2 linked regions of the Homo sapiens genome follow. The protein of the gene in region 1 purifies or fractionates together with the protein of each later gene. This does not show direct contact. Each region holds a gene or a part of one and is shown in the gene's direction. Other genes may lie near its edges. The genes, in order: INPP5A and FLG.

Region 1 (3,815 bases):
GCTGACGGGCAGCCTCACTGGAGCGCAGACGTTACCCTCCCAGGAAACCTGTGATGAGGACTGGGGTGCACACGTGTGCTGAGGACACCCTCCAAGGCCGGCCCCGGGGCTCAGACAGGCAGGCTGGGGCCACATCTGAGCCTCCTGGTTTTAGTGCATTCACTCTGGCGCAGACAGACCATGGCTGAGCGTGTGGTCCCGAATTCCATCCTTGGAACAGAGGAAGTTTTTGTTATGAGAAAGAACTCCAGCCACAGCGGATTTGCACCTGCAGGTCTGTGTCTTGCGACACTTAAGGGCCAGGCTGGACGGGCCCCCACAGAGGTGGAGGAGTGGCCGGCTCTGGCCAAGCTGCCAGACACCACCAGGGAAACAGGTGCACCCACAGAGCTTCTGTGCCTGCTGAGGGGCTGGGAGTCGTAGCCTCAAGGAGCAGGCTCATTTTGTTGCTTTCTGCTTTAAGGTGGTTTTTCTTCTGGTTGGATGAGAAAAGTTAGTTGAGCCCCCCACGGATTGACTCAGCAGCTGAGTATGTAGAAACTGGCCTGGTCCTGGGGCCAGCATGTGAGCCATCCCCCACCACCCACAGGCCTCCCAGGAGGCCCTGCTCCCGCAGCAGAGCGGCCGCTGTCACCGAGGCAATGGCCAGATCAGGAATTCCAGGACCCCCGGGAGGGTGGGACACTGCGGCTCCACCGGTCCCTGTGTCTATGGAATCGGTGTCAGCGGACATCCCGTTCATGGTGGGATATGCCCGTAGGTGTCGGGCAGATGGGGGAGTTTCAATACCGGCTCCTTTAGGGGGTCTCAGTTTGGAGGAAAAAAGCCTTATTTCCTTGATGATGGTTTCATTCCTTAAGAACGCACTAGAATCTGCCCCTTAGTAGCTGCCTGTGGTGTTTCTAGATTCGGGGGCAACGTTGGCTTTGTGGTTCGTTTTTATTTTATTTAACTGTGAACGCCCTTTTACTCCCTGCATTGAGGTGAGACAGAGGACACGGCTCTCAAGGAGAGGAAGAAGTTGTTGGGATTCCCAGGCTTCATGAGGCCGGGCTGTCCCTGAGCCTGAGGCGACCTGCAGGGCTGACTGATTTCTATCCACTGAGGAAGGTTAGGATTCAACCTCAGCCTCACTTTGTGCAGCCGCCATGTTAGACATGCCGCCACAGACCACGGCACCGTTGTCCCTCCCGAAAGTGCTGTCCTGGGCCCGGCGGTGCAGCCCCTGGCAGCTTGCGAGGCCCGGGCTGCCCGCCTCTCCCGTGGCACAGGCTTGGGGACAGGGTGTGCCCGAGCCAGTGGCTGGCTCAGGAGGCCACAGAGGTGCATTTGCCTCTGCTCCAGGCGAGCTTGGGCGGTTCTGGGAGGGCCTGGGGACACAGGGTGACGTGGTGGGAGGGCGCTATGGCCTGTCAGCCTTTGATCTTGGGGCAGGTGGTTCTGCCTGCCTGCCACAGAGGACGGGGTCCTCCATCCCCTCGCGAGCTCCTGGAGGCCACGATGCTCCTGGGGACACCTCCCCTTTGGGAAGGTGAGGGCTGGGGCTGTCCCTGTTGCCAGGCTCTGGCCCTAGGAAGGAGGTTTGTGGCCCCAGTGACTAACGGATTCCCTTGTCTGCCTGGGAGTGTGTTGACCACCAGGGAGTAACCAGGGAACTGGACTCTCCGTGTGGCAGGAGGGGCATCTCCCAGCCTTCGAGCCTGATTGCTTTTCCAGTGCCTGAGCTGCACCCCTGGGATCCCAGCTTTCCCTTCCCGAGTCCGGGCAGCATCTGTGCTGGGCCCTGCTGGGACCTTCCTCCTCATGTGAGGCATGTCACGGCTGGCACTGGCCCCAGCCCGGGCCTCGGGTGTGGTGGGCCCACAGTGTGTCAGACCCTGGGTGTGGTGGGCCTCGGGCGTGGTGGCCTCGGGTGTGGTGGCCCTGGGCATGGTGGGCTTCAGGCATGGTGGCCTCGGGTGTGGTGGGCCCAGGCGTGGTGGGCTTCGGGCGTGGTGGGCCTCAGCTGTGGTGGCCTTGGGTATGGTGGGCCCGGGCATGGTGGGCTTCTGGCGTGGTGGCCTCGGGTGTGGTGGCCCTGGGTATGGTGGGCCTGGGCATGGTGGGCCCGGCCATGGTGGCCTCGGGTGTGGTGGGCCCGGGTGTGGTGGCCCCCGAGGAGGAGTGTGTCCTGGAGAACAGGCGGGTGCGTGAGAGCTCCCAGCTCAGCCACAAGAGCAACACATGCTGCCCACCCAGCCTCGCCTACCCTGCCTACCCTGAGACGCCTTGGCAGGACCTAGAAGCCAAGCCTGGGGTAGGGCCTCGGCGTTGCCTGCACGTGTGCCCAGATGGCTTCTTCGGAGCCCTGAGTGGGCCCCCGAGGCTGTGTGTCCACTTGGCCCAGGCAGGGCGCTCTGGACACCTGGTGATTCCAGGTAGAGAGTGGAGCCCAGGCGCCTGCTGGCTGTGCGTGCGGTGCCTGGAGGCTACAGCCAGCGAGGATTCATTTCAGAGAGTACAGAACAACTTTTTGTTTTTATAAACCAGCTCTTGAAGGTTGCATTTAAAAACTTGGGCTGACAGGGTCTGAGAGGATGTGTTTGCCTTTAGTAGAGTTTTGGATTTTGTGGCAGAGTGTCCGGGACAGTTGAGGGGGTGATGGGACAGATTCAGCTCCCAACGTGAGACCAACTGCACAGGTGCACATTGGGGCGACTCTGCCTGCCATGCAGCTCCGTGCACATCCGAATGACTGCGTTATTTCCTTGCACAGAAAACAGCCTTTCTCCTGGGCTGACACCTGTGCCCTGGGCCTGTGGACGCCCTGTCCAGGCAGCATGCCTCCTTGGTTATCCAAACAGTAAGAAGAAATGCAGGAACTTCGTGATCCACACGCGTGTGGATGACCCTGGCACACAGCGTTCCCGTTAAATTCTAAGTGTGGATAAGACGGCACACCGGACCACTCTTTCCAGAGCCTCTCCTTGCGGCTGCTAATAATGAAATACATCTTAGATGGCTTTTTAAACATAGCATTTAGGGTATTTGTTTCTCCTTTCAAAAGAGAAGAATCCCTTCCCAAAGTAGGCGAGCCGGAAAGGCCCAGCCTGGCCACTTTCCGCATGAGTGGCCACGACTTTGCTGGATTGAAAGGCAAAGGGAACAGGCCAGCTTTGGCCCCTTCAGCCTGGCCTGATCACTCCTTTACAGCCTGTGAATGAGGCAGCTCTGGGGAGGGGTTTGGGGTGGCCGGCCCCTTCCTGGGCTCTGGGGTCCATCAGATGTTTGTCCTTTGGGAGCCTGCCTGAAGTGCTGAGATAAAGCAGTTTTTAAACAGTTTCCCGCAGATGCCTTTTGGGAGACAGAGCCGTGAATTTCCTGAGCCGCGTCCTGGGATGGCTACAATGGCCGTCTGCCTGCCAAGCCTTCTCCCATTCAGGGAAAGCAGCTTAAGCCACTTAAGCCCATTAGCATCTGGATGGGGCCGGACCTCCTTGGGACACAGGGGTGGGCAGGGTGGCCCCGCTGTGTGGCTGTTTGGGTGCTTGTTCTAATCCTCACGCTGTTTGAAGGCTCCAGACTGATTTGTGACACATGAGTCCAAAAGCCACTTTGGGGGGCTTGACCCCATCAGCCGGTCTGTGCTCGGAATGTCAATGGCCTGCCCTGGAGTGTGCTTTGGGGATAGCGGGTGGCCGCCTCCTGGCCCAGGCTGAGACACTGCACACCAGCCACCAGGAGGTAGACGCTGCATCTTGGCAAGAGGCGGGTCGGGCTGCCGAAGGGCTCCAGAGTTCCTCTCAGTTCCTGCTGAGCGCATGCCCGGAACCTGC
Region 2 (3,815 bases), on another chromosome or scaffold:
TTTTCCATTTTAAGTTCAAATGTCCCCTCTACCACAAAACCTCCTTTCCTTAAAGTACCCCCAAATATTCTGTATAATAGCACTCTTATTTTAGTTATGTACATATCACTTATCAATATCTAATTGTTGAATTAATTTATTGTTTGTTTATTGTCTTCACAAAAGTAGGCAGGCACCTCATCTATCTTGTTCACTACTATATCTCCAAAGCATGAAACAGTGCCTAACCCTTTAGTAGCTGTTCAATACTTGTTAAATAAATGAAGGAATGAATGAATGAATGTAAGCTCTGAGAAAAGGTTATGCCTAGAGGTATCAATTTTGAAGTCATCAGATAGATGGTATCTGAAGTGATGGGATCCAATGACATTGCCTCAGAAAGGAGTGTAGATTTTTTTTAAAAAGAAGGTCTAAGACACAGCCACAGATATTTCCAACCTTTTGAGATTGAGTAGAAGAGAGGTTAGTAAAGAATACTGAGAGACAACAGCATTCAATGGGTAAGAGGAATATCAGAAGAATATGGTGTCATGAGATCCAAGAAAAAAAGACTCCATTAAGAAAGGAATGGTTAATTCTATTTCACATACCAAGAGATTAAGTAAGATGATGATGATGAGGTAATGATGGAGAAATGACACTGTATTCAACAACTTGGAGATCACAGATGATTTGACACAAAGCAGTTTCAGTAGAGTTTGGTGATAGAAAATTGAGAGAAGCAGGTTAAAAAGAAAGTGGGTGGTAAACATTTTAAGAGAGAAAGCAGAGAAAACTTCTCCAAGACTCCTGTGAAATGAAGCAGTTAATTAGGCTAGTAAGATGTTAGGAGAAATGTTGGGGGAGGGTGGAATAATGGTTCGAGGGAAGGGTTTTAAGATGGAAGATACTCCAGCATGTTTCTGTGGTGATAAAAATAAACTACTAGAGAAGGAAACAGAGTGAAGTAGGGAAAACTGACTAATTTTAGGGATATTTTGAAAGTAGGATCAATAAAACATGTTGATGGAATAGATATTGGATGTAAGAAAAGGAGAATCAACTAATTTTCAGGTTTACGACTTGAGCCATCAGGAAGACAGGAATAACTGATGAGGATAACGGGTGTGCGACATTTTTAGGGTAAAGCAGTTGAAAATCAAGACTTCTGTTTTGAACATAATAGATTTAAGATCTCTACAAGACTCAAGTAGAAATACTGGATAGGCATTTAGACATACACATCTCAAGTTTAGGGGACAGTCAGTGACTGGGGGTATAAACTTGTGAGTTGCCAACTTATTTAAAAAGTTATATAGAACTAGATGAGATGACCCGAGGGAGTATAATAAAGAAAAGAAGCTAAGGAGTGAATCATAGGGCATAGCAACATTAGGAGCTGAACGAGGAGGCTAAGAAAAAAGTGGCCATTGAGGTTGGAGGAGAAACTTGAGAGTGCCAGGTCTCTGAAGAAGGATGAAGCCAGTTGCATCAAATGCTGCTGATATGTCAAGTAATATGTAAAATAAAAATGGATATGTGGATTTGGAAATATGAAGGATATTTTTTACTTGGTGAGAGTTTTAATACATTTTTTAGAAAGAAAAATACCTTGAGTAAAGGAAAACAAGAATGAGGAAGTAAAGACAGAATGTATAGGCATATCTTTTGAGGAATTTTGCTATAAAAGGGAACAGATAAATCAGATGGTACCTAAAGGCAGATGTGAGATTGAGGGTGGGGTGGAGATGGGAAGGTAAGTGTTAGATAGATATTTCAGCATGAATATATATTGAAGGGAATGATCCAGTAGACAAAGAAGAATTAATGATGCATATGAGAAAGTAGGCAACTGCAAAAGCAAAGTGTTTGGGTAGGCAAGAGAGAGTGGGGCTCAGTGCCAAAGTAAAGGACAGGAGGAGCACAGACTGTTTATTACCCTAAATAAAGTGAAGGCAAGGTATATGGATAGAAATGTAGTAGGTTGGGAGATCAGATATTAGGAGAATGAGGAAACTCTTTTCCAATGGCTTCCAAGTTCTCAGGAATCAAAATCAAGGACATCAGAGATAAAGGAAAGAAGAAGTTGTTGAAGCTTTGGCCAGTGGGTATAAGAAAAAGTAGGACAAGTGGATGTATCCAAGGGGCATTTGGGGAGATTAAACATAATGTCTAACCAAGGTAAAAAGGGAAGTGAGTACATAAAGCAGTAAATAGAGAGGTTAAAGAATTATTGACATCAGCGTACAAGAGAAGGTCAAAGAGTGAGATCCTTCAGAAAGAGATTTTGCATATGTTGCAAGTAACGATAAGTTCAGAGAATACAATATCATCATAAATAAGACTGGCTGAAAATAATCATAAACTTTAAAATGCATTTGTAAGAAGCATATACCTGTAATTTTTTAAATTCAATCTTTACAATCTATATTTTAACTGGCAAGATATGGTCTATTTTACATGTATTGTAATTAGTAATAATAAAATTATTTGTAATTCTATTAATTTATTTTATGCTTTCTGTTTACCCTTCTTTTTCTATGCTTCTTATTTTCTTCTTTCCTGGCTTCTGTTGAATTATTAAAGTTTCTTAATTCCCCTTTTTCATCTCTAATGGTTTAGAAATTATAAATTCTATTATTTTAGTAAATACCCATAAACTTACCCAAATACATATATCACTTAACCACAGCAAAATTCATTAATATCTAATTCCTCTTACCAAACAAACCAAGGTCCAAAAATGTTTTAGTTGTGACTGCTACAGTAATCTCCTTCACATTGTTTTCTACAGTATTTTAGTTTCACCTGGTTTTGTAAGTCCTAATAAAGTTATAATTCTTTATATAATACACACTTAGATTTATTGACATGCTTACTAATTTCTTCACCAATGAGATAAACTGAACATTCCTTAAATGGCAAAATGAAACCCAGTCAGAAAAACCTTTCTCTTTAAATATTGAAGAGCTATTAAATCCATCCTATACAATGAAATATTATAAACTTCATGAAATGTTTAAAAAACAAATAAAAAATTGAATGAACTTTCATTGAGTATCTTGTCATATGGCTAACTGGCTTTCAGAGAATTGTGTCTTAGCAAATTAATCATTTATTAAGTTAGCTTTTGGGGAAGTAATTTTCAGTAAATTTGTATAAGTAAATTTTACTGCTTAAAACCAGTCAGCCTTTCTAAATTCTTGTTGCTAGCAATGGCAAGATCAGCAAGAGGGATGATCTTACCTAGAGCACACTGAGGTCTGTGAGACTACTAAGTCCAGCTGTAAGTGGGCACAAGGCCAAAAAATGGGCAATTTTATTTAAGTCAGGAAAACTCTATTCATTTGTTTTATGTAGATGGTAGAGAAAAGTTTCTCATGTCCATCTTCCATTCTTAAAGATGGATTACTTAGAGGAAAATGTAGGTTTAAAATGTGGAAAATGATTGTAATAATATAACCTAGAAAAAAAGATGTATAAAAAAGTGCATTTTCATTTCTTCTTTCTAGGTTCACATTTATTGCCAAAAGATGTCTACTCTCCTGGAAAACATCTTTGCCATAATTAATCTTTTCAAGCAATATTCAAAAAAAGATAAAAACACTGACACATTGAGTAAAAAAGAGCTGAAGGAACTTCTGGAAAAGGAATTTCGGCAAATCCTGAAGGTAAGAGTCTCTGACAAGACCAAAGATAGAGCATTTGTTTTTCTCATCAATAATCTAAGCAAGGGTTATTTTGAGCTCTTTGTGAACTATTTCTCTTAAAATAGGAAAAGAGTTAATCTTGTCTCAAAAGAGATAGATTTTATTTTCTTCCCCTATACCTGGATG

What was found.
Region 2: the proteins of INPP5A (region 1) and FLG purify together in Homo sapiens (affinity purification with mass spectrometry; one large-scale study listed by BioGRID and IntAct). This does not show direct contact.

Annotation. Positions count from the first base shown.
Region 1 is NC_000010.11:132,743,741-132,747,555, forward strand, and holds part of INPP5A (inositol polyphosphate-5-phosphatase A), read left to right. Parts: intron 1-3,815. UniProt on the Homo sapiens protein: Phosphatase that specifically hydrolyzes the 5-phosphate of inositol 1,4,5-trisphosphate to inositol 1,4-bisphosphate, and inositol 1,3,4,5-tetrasphosphate to inositol 1,3,4-trisphosphate. Plays a crucial role in the survival of cerebellar Purkinje cells.
Region 2 is NC_000001.11:152,315,154-152,318,968, reverse strand, and holds part of FLG (filaggrin), read left to right. Parts: intron 1-3,491; 5' UTR 3,492-3,512; coding exon 3,513-3,650; intron 3,651-3,815.